Homo sapiens: one gene and its partner. The protein of the gene in region 2 interacts with the protein of the main gene of each other region in a biochemical or structural test. Each region holds a gene or a part of one and is shown on either strand. Other genes may lie near its edges.

The links.
Region 1: the proteins of PTPRZ1 (region 2) and CNTN1 are reported together in a solved structure, tested with the Homo sapiens proteins (one study listed by IntAct).

Annotation. Positions count from the first base shown.
Region 1 is NC_000012.12:41,066,427-41,072,933, reverse strand, and holds the end of CNTN1 (contactin-1 isoform 1 precursor), read right to left. Parts: intron 2,976-6,507; coding exon 2,899-2,975; 3' UTR 519-2,898; downstream 1-518. UniProt on the Homo sapiens protein: Contactins mediate cell surface interactions during nervous system development.
Region 2 is NC_000007.14:122,037,142-122,044,171, forward strand, and holds part of PTPRZ1 (receptor-type tyrosine-protein phosphatase zeta isoform 1 precursor), read left to right. Parts: intron 1-1,613; coding exon 1,614-1,748; intron 1,749-2,312; coding exon 2,313-2,447; intron 2,448-3,674; coding exon 3,675-3,838; intron 3,839-5,466; coding exon 5,467-5,602; intron 5,603-7,030. UniProt on the Homo sapiens protein: Protein tyrosine phosphatase that negatively regulates oligodendrocyte precursor proliferation in the embryonic spinal cord. Required for normal differentiation of the precursor cells into mature, fully myelinating oligodendrocytes.

The sequences.
Region 1 (6,507 bases), on a different chromosome or scaffold from region 2:
AAAAGGAAAACCAGAATCCAGGGTGAAGCAAGCTTCATGAAACAGGAAGGGAGATGAGAATTCCAATGCGAAACCACGATCAGAACACAGGAGAAAATGGGAAGGCAGGACACAGGCAGCCGTGGGATGCAGTTTTCTGGGCCCAGCCTGTCTCAGGACTCAGAAGCTTTACCTGTAGCAGACTCCTCCTATAGATTCATGCCATTATGCAGATACCTCTATTCCAGACTCGCTCATTCAGGGTTACAAAGTCTCATTTTCTTAGCATCTAGCAGCTGGCTTTAGTGTTTCACTTTACATTGAATGATATTCACTGACATCTTTATGGGTTGAAGTTATTTACCAGGTGAACTTATTTCAATGTAATAATGACTCTGTGTGTGTTTCTATGTGTGTACTTTTTGTAGTACTTCAAATACTGAACTGTTGCTTAACCAGAATATTTATTCCCTGCTATCGAACTTGTAATGAAAACCTTCTAAAAAATTTAAACTTGAGGTAAATTGAAAGGACAGTTGTTCTTTCTTGGGTAACATAAGACATTTATTACTTTATACTAATTTTTTCATTCATAAAAAGGACAAAGCACAGTCCTATACTACTCCATTGAAAAAATGATAAAAAATAACTAAAAAATCAATTCAATATTTATCAGTATCAAATAAAACTACTATCACCTTTCCTGAAATACAAAGAAACAACAGATGTATCTATACCTATATAAAGTTTAATTCAGAATCTTGCGTCTTAAAGCAGATGATTATTAGTTAGCTTGACAACAGTTTAAAACTGATGGTCCCAGTTAAATCTGTACAACTGTATGAGAAAATGAAAAGCTTGAGTTATCAGTGTACGAGAGATTTTAAACTACTTTATCTCTGTCAGAAATTCAAAACTAAACAACCTCCAAAGTCTGTTTTCCTCTTACCTTTCAGAACCATTTCATGCAAAATCTAACCAGTTTTGCTCGTTATTATCATATATTAGAAAATAAAAGGCAAGCATGCATTTGGCAAAAGATTTAGTTGTTGATTATATAAAAATGCCCAACATGGGTCACATTGCAAAAGTAAAACCCCAAAGTGTAACAATGAAAACACAAACATTTGTACAGAAGGTATACAGGGTATTCGTTTCCCTAAAGTATGAAGACATTTTGTTTCTTTTTCAAATACTTAAATATTTTATGAAATCTGGCAATGATCTTAAGACTGTTGACATACTTCCACTGGGAAATCATCCATTTCACTTATTTTTAAAAGTTTCATTTTATACCAGAGTTAAATGTAAACTAATGAAATATTTATTGATATTTTCATAATGAAGACTCTAAACATTTACACATCGATATATAGTACAAAAATTATACAAATTAAAGAAAGGGGGTAAAGTCGGTAAAGTAGTAATAGATCTATTTTGCTTCCTGTAAATATTTTTTACGAACCTATACGGTGTCCTTTCTAAAAAGATAAACTCTAATTAGCTAGCAAGTTTGTGCTAATAAAATAGGATTATACCTCTTGAAGCATCCAACACTGCACTATTTCACAAGCCAGCTAATTCTTTATTACTCGATTTCTTTTACATCCACACTCAAACACATTTCCATGCACACCATGGAGAATGAAGAAATGTGCATCTTCCTTTTCACAACTTATAAAAACCCAAAGCACCAACACTTGGGAGACACCATCGGAAAGACATATTATTTGCCTCCTCCTGGCCTTCCAGTTTTGCATACTCTTCAAAGTACCATTAGCAGTATATTGATTTGGTATTTTTAGCCAGTTTTCAGTATTGCATTGAAGTGGGAAATGAGCTTAAAACTAATTATTATTATTATTATTATTGTTATTTTTACAAAATGGAATACGGTAGCTTTTTCAACCTACAGGTGACTTTTTGATCTGACATCTGCAATAAAGAAACGTAATACTTAGGAATGAAGCAGAAAAACCAACATACTAGTAATTGTGATATTCACTTAACTGTCACTTATTCCTAACCATGTAAAGACTGTCACATCTCAATAAAAAAGGAAGCACTCTACTTTTCAAAATTTGTCACTCCACATATGAACAAATATAGCAATATTATGATACTCTAGATAAGAGCTGTGATTTTTGAGATTTGAAATTGATAAGAAAAGCATAAAATAACTTCAGAGTAGAATATAAAAGTAAAAAAAAATCTATATGGTATGTTAACTTTACTATTAAAAAACTGATTCTGAAAATCAAATATTTAGAAAATTATTTCCTTTGAAAATAAGAATACTGATAGTAAGTTCTAGAATTTGGTTTTCAATAGTCAAAATCTTTCAACTCATGATTTGATAATGGGATTTCTGACAAAATATTTGTTACACTCTATTGTCTTTTCAAGAAAACTCAAGATGTCATGAATGATAGGGGCCATTCAATAATATGCAGTACCCAAAACAGTGAGGAAAGTACAAGAGACTGTATTACTCTTACATTTACCACATACAACCAACATTTCAATCTCTATTATATTTCACAACTTGTTATTAAATTTAAAGCACCTGTATATGGTGATTTGACTTTCACTCTACAGCCTATAGTATTGAATTGAACACTGTAACTTGTCCCATTGGGTTAAATCATGCAACTGTCACAGAATCAGGTTAAGTGGTTTATAAGGCATATTGGAACGAGTTAAAAATCATTTATATCCATTTAAAAGTTTATTCTTTTGGATGAAGGGGTTCCCGAATGCCTCAGTCATCATGTGTGTTGTAAATCAGTTGAATAGTTTGTTAAAGTATAATTTATTTGGCTTAGGATGGAGCCGCAGAAATTGGAAGGAATTGTGGTCATCCCAGGGTTGAAGGGTGTCTTCTGAGCTGGGATGGGAACAGCAGCTGTCACAACACATTCAGAATTCCAAGTAGACAAGGATGCCAAAGGCAGGCAGCAGTAAGCCGAGAAGACTTGGGGATAGGGTGGGTGCACCTGCAAGGTAAACCAAAAGTGTGCATATTATTTCATTGATACATGTCACTATTGCTCATTTAGTCTGCTTCAGCTAAGGCGAGATTGCATAGCCCTGGAAAACAAATGGGTCCTTTCACAAAACAGAATCTCTTATTCTTACATGATTTAAGAAAAACAAAAGCTTTTGATCAAAGATTTTCTGTGTGAGACCATGTGAACTGTTTACACAACATGATTAATCATTTAAAATAATATGATCACAAATGTGTATGCTGTCCCTATGATCCAGCAGTCCCAAATTCCTACCAGAAGGCAAAATGTCAAGAAACATATATACATGCATTAAAAAAGTAAGTTTTAAAAATAAGATAAAGTTGTGGGGTGGGGGGAGTGGGGAGGGATAGCATTAGGAGATATACCTAATGCTAAATGACGAGTTAATGGGTGCAGCACACCAACATGGCACTTGTATACATATGTAACAAACCTGCACATTGTGCACATGTACCCTAAAACTTAAAGTATAATAATAATAAAATGTAAAAAAAGAGATACAGTAAAAATACTAATAATTTTTCCTGAAACAATGACAACATAGGTATGCTAGGTAAATCTTGCATAATTTCACATCCCAATGGTTTTAAGACATTTATACATTTATACAGAATGACTTAAGTAATGTATTTCTGATATTAAATAATCTCATTCAATTTTTATCTAAAGAACAATTGCCCTGAGATATTACACTGTGAATTAAAAATTGAAATGATGTATTATAATATGCTATGGACTTAATTTACGTCTTGGGTGACACTTAGAAGGGCTACTCCTGTAGTCAAGTAAGTTTATGGGTCCGTGTCCTGCCGACATGAGAATTTTTGAGAAACTATTGTAAAGTAGGACCAAAAAGTCATACTCTTTCTTCCCAATGTCCACAACTATTAGGCACTATCTTCTTTTTAAATAAATTAATTATTATTTTTTAAGATACAGGGTCTTGTTCTATTGCTCAGGCTGGAGTGCAGTGGTTCAGTCATAGCTGACTGCAGCCTCAAACTCCTGGGCCCATGTGATCCTCCTGCCTCAGTCTCCCAAAGTGCTGGGATTACAGGCATAAGCCACCATGCCTGGCTGGCACTATCTTCAATGAACATGCTGCTAGAATGAGTGAAGACCTAAAAAATTTAGTCAATGGCTTACTAATATAACAGTTTTCATTAATTTTTGGAAGTTTACTCTCTAAATTTGAAACCACCAAATAAATTATTATTATCTATCACATTAAAAGTGACCATAAACAGCTCATTCTTTGGCATGGTCCTTTTATATTCAGGGAGATTTAGTGCATTTCTCCTGAATCTCTGGTCATTAAAAGCACATTCATGTTCCCTATAAGGTGGAAGATAATAGTGTCTGTCTGCTTGCTTGTCTTCAACATTGCCCTGCCTGGGGCTTTTGGAGCTGCCTGGAAACATAAGAGGGAAAGCTTTATCGGATACAGATAAAGTAGTTCTTAGAAATGAGCAGGAAAGTGAGGGTCAAAAGGTGAGGGCAGATAACAAGGGGAATATAAACAGCCCTCAAGTAGCAGAGCTCCTAAGGACACTATCAATAACAATAGTAAACTTATCATTACTTTGAGAGATGCTACTTACTGCCCTACAGCCAGCTACAAGACTATGTTGGCTCATTATGTAGATTATGACATGACTACAACAACCTACAATGGTAGGTCTTTTACCCTAATTTTATATATTTTGTAACTGAGTCAGGTAAAATGAGTTGCTCAAGTCCAATAGTCACTAGAGGGCAGAGAAGGGATTAGAATTCAAATTTGTCCAGCTGCAAAGGCCATGCACTTTTGACCTCTCTGCCGTGTTCTTGCAGGTAGCTTTAGCAAGGGACTGGTTTTAGAAATGCAGAAGGAAACTGCGCTCTGCACTTAATGTATCAAGGCAAGGGCACAGAAGGAAAATAATAAATGTCATATGGAAAAAAGCTAACACATAAACTGTTTCAAAGAGATCTTTGTATTCTTGTAATTTTTTTTATCTTCTACTTTTCTACAAATTTTTTAAAATATGCCACAGACCACACATTATTTTATTCTGATAAGATGCCCAATAATAAACCTCAATCACACAGTAAAACCTTTAAACGTCAATGTTTGACCCAGTGTAAATGATCCATCCTGAAGCCTTTTTTTTTTTATTATACTTTAAGTTTTAGGGTACATGTGCACATTGTGCAGGTTAGTTACATATGTATACATGTGCCATGCTGGTGCGCTGCACCCACTAACTCGTCATCTAGCATTAGGTATATCTCCCAATGCTATCCCTCCCCCCTCCCCCACCCCACCACAGTCCCCAGAGTGTGATATTCCCCTTCCTGTGTCCATGTGATCTCATTGTTCAATTCCCACCTATGAGTGAGAATATGCGGTGTTTGGTTTTTTGTTCTTGTGATAGGAATTGGAAATCATCATTCTGAAGCCTTTTTTGTCTGAGGATGACTGCAGGGTCTCCACAATGCTCTGTCTTTTGACCACAAATTACATCTATCATGGGGACATGTTTATGTACTTGGCTGAATATGTGGGTTGGCAAAGTACAAACTGTGGCTGCTCGAAAGAAATTTAGTGAATTGTGGATGCCATCTTGATGTTTTGGTACTAGTATGAAAACCAAATACAATTTCATAATTTGTGGCTTTGACATCAGGATATTTGAAATAAACTCTCCATGTTTACGTGTGTTATATTTAATTTCTCTAATGGCTCAAGCTTATGTAATTTTGGTCTTCATCTTTACTTCTATCCCACATTCCAAACAGAAATTAGAGACCGAATTGAAGTACTATCTAATGTCATTTTAAATGACATATATTCTTGAGGAGTTTTTCAATATATATTGGTTTTGAATCTAACAACATATATATCAGAATACTGCTATCAATCATAATTCTGGTACTTATGTGTTATATAGTAAACACATATTTTGCTTTTCACATAGCTGATGAATGTTAAACCTGAACAAATCATTGATCTTGTGAATAATTTTTCTCTATCAGAAGAAATGTAAAACCAATTTGGAGTACTATATCTCTTCCATGGGAATTCTTGATTTTTTTTTAAATCTAAACTTTGATTTCATACTTCCTTCAGGGAGAATTCCCGCTATATGGAGAGTGATGCTGAAAACAGACATTTCAATTAAAAGTTGAGCAGTACTGCAGGCTTTCTGATAAGTAGAAAACTGCTCTACTTGGTTTTTAATACAAACTTCCTTTCTGATTCTTCAATCTGGACACTGTGATGCAGTCTTTGTTTCTACTGCTTGCCTATTGCTGACGATGCCATAACATTTAGAATTTTCTCTTTGTGGTGTCACATTTTGTGACCACAACTGCTAATATCTCTATATTATGAACAACTTCAAGACAGAGATGATATCCAAATTATGTTTTAGCTGTGTTGACTAATACCAAGCCTAGTGCATAGAAAGTACTCAACCTATAATGTTAAATGATTGAGTTATGCCTCCATTGT
Region 2 (7,030 bases):
GCGGGCGCCTGTAGTCCCAGCTACTCGGGAGGCTGAGGCAGGAGAATGGCGTGAACCCGGGAGGCAGAGTTTGCAGTGAGCCGAGATCGCACTTCTGCACTCCAGCCTGGGCAACAGAGTGAGACTCCGTCTCAGAAAAAAAAAAAATGTGAAGGGCAGGGCCAAGGCTTATTTTAAGTTTCCCATAGCTCCTGGCACAAGGATGTGCATTTAGCTGATGAACAAAAAATTTCCATAGTAGTACTGATTAAAAGGCAAACATGATTATTAATCCAGTTATCAACCTTTATAATTTTGGGTATTCCTCAGGATACCCAGCTTTGTGGAACTTACTGGGACTCTCCAGAGACTGTAGACCGCTCACTAACTAAATTGGTTTTTCACTGTGATCACCTGAATGTCAGCAGAACTCAATTACTTCCCTAAGATGCACCTCTCAGTCTAGCTGGCTTCAGGTTAATACTGTGTGGAATACTGAATTCAAATAAATGAGTACATAAGTATAAAGTGGGTTTGTTACAGGCAACTGTTTCATGCTTCCTGAGGAGGAAATATGCATGTCAGAATGAACATGAGATCTGGAGTTAGAACTGATTTTGAATCCCATCTCTGCCACTGGCTAGCTGTGGGACTTTGGAAAGCCACTTAACTCCTCTGAGCTTTAGGTTCCTCATCTCCACATCAGGGTTGATGCTTCCATTTTGCATAGATGAAAGATTAAGGTTCACGTTCTGTATTAGTCTATGAAGGACACTGCTATGAAGGAATACCCAAGACTGGGTAATTTATAAAGAAAAGAGGTTTAATTTTCTCATAGTTCTGCATGGCTAGGGAGGTCTCGGGAAACTTACAGTCATGGTGAAAGGCACCTCTTCACAGAATGGCAGGAGAGAGAATGAGTGCCCAGTAAGGAGGAAAGCCCTTTTTATAACCATCAGATCTCATGAGAACTCACTCACTCTCACGAGAACAGCGTGGGGGAAATCACCCTCATGATTCCATTATTTCCACCTGGTTCCTCCCACAACACACAGGAATTATGGAAACTACAATTTAAGATGAGATTTGGGTGGGAAAACAGCCAATCCATATTATGCCCATAAAACATCTTGTACAAAATGGGACACAGTGACGAATTGCTAATAATGATTAGCACTTCTCAGCACGTTGAAGTAGAGTAAGGAGGTTACACTCCAGATGCTTTTTTAAGCTGTTGTAGACATCTGAGCCCAGTGCCTAAAATACATTTCAAAGCAGTGCTATTAAAGACTTGATTTTAAGCATAGCAAGTAGACCGCAAATGGATTAAATACACTTGGAATACAAATGCACAGAATTATAGTTGTGTCAAAGCAAAGAGAGCTATTCTTTTTTTTTTTTTTTTTTTTTTTTTACAAAAATGATAGGGATCCTTCTGCTTCCTAACCAAGAGTATTTTCTAACCAAGAGTAGCTATCTTAGTTGGTACCATCAAATTTCTCCAACTTTGCAAGTTTATTTTTTATGGTTTTCTTTTACGAAAAATTATGCTGACCTTAAAAACTTAGGCATTGTACAGTTAAAGATGACATATAAATCAGTTAGTAGGAAACATTTGTCATTTAATTCTTCAGGGCTACAACAGACCAAAAGCTTATATTGCTGCCCAAGGCCCACTGAAATCCACAGCTGAAGATTTCTGGAGAATGATATGGGAACATAATGTGGAAGTTATTGTCATGATAACAAACCTCGTGGAGAAAGGAAGGGTATGTAGATAATCTGTTATGTCACCCCCAAAAAAGTAATTAGAGGTACTTTAAATTAGTTTTAATAGAGTCAGCATTAGGAAGGAGCCAAAGTTTTGAGAGTTATTTGGGATTCTTTTTTAGTAAATATGACAGCTAAAGGGAAACTGTTAATACTGTTAGTCAAAAAGTTTCATTATGAATCATGCTATCTGCCTTTTAAACGCATTCTTCATACTGTGGGAGAAGTAAATGGGACTCATTGAAAAGCAATGTAGAGTGAAATCGATTTTAATTCACAGGACATGGATTTTAGTCTTGGCTCTGTAACCTGAATCTTCTGACTCACTTGCCTTATCTGAAAGGGGAAATTTTAGGGTACCTCATCTCAGTCTCGTTCAGCTCTCAGATTCTATCCCTAGCCTCCTCCACAACTAATTTCAGTCACTTATAAAGAAAATAAAACATTTAGAAGAGTGAAGGAGTCCATTCCTGTCACCATCTCAGACCTTTACTGATTTCAGGGAATGACTTTTACATGGAGCATTTGAAATACAGAAGTAACATCTACATTTTCTTTTGCAGAGAAAATGTGATCAGTACTGGCCTGCCGATGGGAGTGAGGAGTACGGGAACTTTCTGGTCACTCAGAAGAGTGTGCAAGTGCTTGCCTATTATACTGTGAGGAATTTTACTCTAAGAAACACAAAAATAAAAAAGGTGAGTCAACAAAATGATGGGCATAATCAAGTGAACAATGCATTTGGTCATTTTTTAAGTGAATAAGCGATAGAACCAAGAAAGGGTAAAAAGCATATAACTAAAGGCATTAAAAATTCTTGTAACCAGGCCAGGTGCATGGCTTATGCCTGTAATCCCAGGACATTGGGAGGCCAAGGTGGGTGAATTACTTGAGGTCAGGAGGTCGAGACTAGCCTGGCCAACATGGTGAAACCCCATATCTACTAAAAATGCAAAAATTTGCTGAGTGTGGTGGTGCACACTTGGGAGGCTGAAGCACAGGAATCACATGTACCCAGGAGGCAGAGGTTGCAGTGAGCTAAGATCATGCCACTGCACTCCAGCCTGGGCAACAGAGTGAGACTCTGTCAAAAAAAAAAGAAAAGAAAAAAAAAAAGAATTCTTATCACAGCTGCCGTCAGTCCTAAAGGTTTCTTTCAGGTCTCTAGATGCCTGTTGTGGCTTTGGAGCCAGACTGGTTTTGTTGCTGATGTTTAAAGTGAATGTGATACATGAACAGAAATTCCTACCTTGTGTGGCAACTGCATAGGATGGCCCTGACACAATCCCAATATTCAACTAAAAAGAGTGGAGAGTGAAACAAGAAAAAGAAAGGAAACACGAAGAATAACGTATTACTCAGGTTCTTCAAAGAAACAGAACCAACAGAATAGAGAGATAGAGAGGTTTACATTTTTAAGAATTGACTCACATGATCATGGGGATTAGCAAATCTTAAACCTGTAGGACAGGCTGGCAGCCTAGAAATTCTGGTAGGATCTTTACGTTGCACTGTTGAGAAGAATTCTTTATTCTTCAGGTAACCTATCCTATCAGTCTTTGTTCTTACAGCCTTCAAGTGGTTGAATGGAGCTCACCCACATTATGGACTATGATTTGCTTTACTCAAAGTCTGCTGACTTACATGTTAATCACATCTAAACAAAATACCTTTACAGCAACATTTTGTGTGATTAGTGTTGACCAAACAATGGGCCACCATAGTATAGCCAAGTGGACACAAAATTAACCATCACAAATGACACTCTACTTTCTTTCATTCATTATGGACCCTCAACATCAAATCAAGCTATGATTCCTGACTTGCTGTTGAAGAACCGTGTGTGTGTGTGTGTGTGTGTGTGTGTGTGTGTGTGTGTGTGTGTGTGTGTGTTTGACTGTTATTAACTGTCTGAACTTTTCCAGGGCTCCCAGAAAGGAAGACCCAGTGGACGTGTGGTCACACAGTATCACTACACGCAGTGGCCTGACATGGGAGTACCAGAGTACTCCCTGCCAGTGCTGACCTTTGTGAGAAAGGCAGCCTATGCCAAGCGCCATGCAGTGGGGCCTGTTGTCGTCCACTGCAGGTGAGTCTCAGAGATGTGCCTCTAAACCCATAGAATTGCTTATACTTGCAAAAAGGAAATCAATGGAACAAAGCTTTTGCCCAAATGGGAATGATTTCTTGAAATGAGGGTGATGAAATTATATGTTCATTTTCATAAGTATTGATCACTAGGAAATGAACATGCCAGACTCAGAATTGGATTGCTGAATATTTCTAAGCACCACATATTTTTTGATGTTGATTATTTTATTTGATTGTTCAACTGCATTTCAGCTTATTAACTATTTGAGGCAGGTGGAACAATGTTTTTGTTGTTAAACAAATATTTACCTCAACATATAATACCATGGGATAAAAATGCTTGAGCTACAACCCCTGTCCCTAGGAGTTAAAATTCTGTTTTAGAATTATTATGCCAGGCTTGTATCACAGAAGCCAAAGCACACAGATTGTGAGAAATTTGGCAAAATATATTTAAGTTGTTTTTAAACATTTTGGGACCAGAATCCCTTTTTCATTTTCTTGAGTTTTAATACATTACATTGAATGTATTGTCAATTCATTGTTGCCAAGATTTTTTAATTTCCAAGACTAGGTTGATAAATAGAAATAATGATGTTTCAATGAAAGAGGAAAAATGTTGAAAATCCTTATTTAATGTTTTCAGTTAAAATAATAATAGCAGTTAATATTTATTGAGTGCTGACTGTGTGCCAAGCCTTAGATCACAAAAATCAAATTTGTTTCTATGTGAAGTATTGTTATCAAAGCAGTGTGTTTTTAGAGAATCAAGTGTTTGCCTTTGATATATAGCTTATCTAACACATTCTAATTACCATCTCAGGAGTTAAATTTGAGAGACCCATCTTGAGGCTTTTTAATCTGTTAGCCTGATTATAAACTGAGGAAAACAGGAAGATGCAAGAAAAATAGTGCTGAAGGTCAGGGATTGTTTCCTAGCAAACGGAGAAGGACCAGGCTATTGTGCAGAGCAGGTGCTAATTTTCCACTCTAGCACTTCCTACTTGTCGGAACATTTGAAAAGAATCCCTGTCCGTGAATTCTGTCCCTCTGCTAGAGGCTTTGAAGAAGTCGATAGATAATGGCCCTTTAGAAATAACTGAAGTCATGCTTTATTCCTCACAATCTCACTGAAATGATATTTTCAGCAGAAAGCTTTATCAAATTCTTTTTCCCATTAACGCAGAAATCTTTACAAACATGTCTACCTGGAAACATAGACCTAGGGACTTTTTCTTTTCAGAATTTGGTGAAGTTAAAGCTTTCACTTTTGTCAGATTAAATGTCTATTTGCCACACTCTGATACATAATATTTTCATTGTACAATATACAATGAATAATAAATATGGTTTTTGAAAGTTTTAAAATCTCCAACAGATATAGTGAGGTTGTTTTGCAATTAGACACATGACAAAACATTAGAAAGGGTACTTCTAAATTTGTTGTGTAAAGCATTACGCTTAATTACTAAACTGTTTACAATATTGAATTGCCAAATGTATTGTGTGGCTCACTCGCTTGAAGAAGGAAGTTATTTTAATCAACATGACAACCAGTAGTGATCTATTTTTCAAATTTATTTTATGCTTAACATTGAAATATTTATTTCTTGGTCTTCTCTTCAGTGCTGGAGTTGGAAGAACAGGCACATATATTGTGCTAGACAGTATGTTGCAGCAGATTCAACACGAAGGAACTGTCAACATATTTGGCTTCTTAAAACACATCCGTTCACAAAGAAATTATTTGGTACAAACTGAGGTATGATTTTTAAAAAGATGATTTTATTCATCTAAGGTATGGAAATGTCACTAAAATGTAGGTGTATTCATCTCCTAGGACTGCAAAACAAAGTAATACAAACTGGGTGGGTTAGAACAACAGAAGTTTATTGTCTCATAGTTCTGATGTCTGTAGGCCCATGCCCTTCCAGAAGCCTCTAGAAGATTCTTCCTTGCCTCTTTCATCTCCTGGTAGCCCCATGCATTGCGTGGCTTGTGGCAGCACAATTCCAGTCTCAGTCTTCACTTGGCTGTTTCCCTCTGTGTCTGTGTCTGTATCCAAATTTTCCTCCTCTTATAAGCATACCAGTTATCCTCCTCCTCCAGTTGATCTCATCTTAACTGATTACATCTGTAACAAACTTTTATGCAAATAAAATCACACTCTGAGTTATCAGGCGGTTAGAGCTTTAATATATCTTTGTGGGGGGACACCATTCAACCCATGACACCAGTAACTGCAGCTATGTCATGAATGAGCCAGATAAATTTTATCTGTTTTGTGACCCCAAATAGGGAATATCCTTTAAAATGACACTGGTCACAGAGAAGATACAGCAAAAGTCTAAGTAGAGTGGTCCACACACATCCTTGCTAGCAAAAATCTCAAGTTCTTCATATACATAGTGGATGAATCAATTCATTTTTTAAAAAAATATGAATTATGCTTAAATTATATCCATTTTAAGCCCATATAGTTTACCCGTAAGTGACAGAACAGTGTCAGCAAATCTGCATTTTATCTTCACTGTTTCTAAATAAAAATGAACTTAAATGGAAACCTATGAATGGCAGCTTGAAAGCAATCAGAAACACATGGCTGAGTGGGCTTCAAAACGAAACCACACCAAACATCCTTCCATCCATTATCCTAAGCAAACTTACACAGGAACAGAAAACCAAATACCACATGTTCTCACTTATAAGTGGGAGCTAAATGATGAGAACACATGGAGACATAGAGGGGAACAACACACACTGGGGCCTTTCAGAGGGTGGAGGATGGCAGGAGGGAGAGAATCAGGAAAAATAACTAATGGACTAATGGGTATGAGCCTTAATACCTGGGTGATGAAATAGTCTATACAACAAACCCCCATGACACAAGTTGACCTGTGTAACAAACCTGCACATGTACCCCTGAACTTAAAATAAACATTAAAAAATAACATTCTGGTCATATAAGACCAAGAAAGAGTCCCGTATGTGAAATATCAGAGAACTATTAACTATATATAAAATTGAGTTAAATTGTATATGACAAGCGAAAAGGAGAGTTGGCGTTGCCAGAAGGGGTAGGCCCACCAGAAGTGTAGAAGTCAAGAAAGCCCTCTCATGAAGTATAGAGGTGTCAAGTTTGAAGGATAGGCAGAGAGGACATTCCTTTGCCTTGCCAACTCTTCCTGCC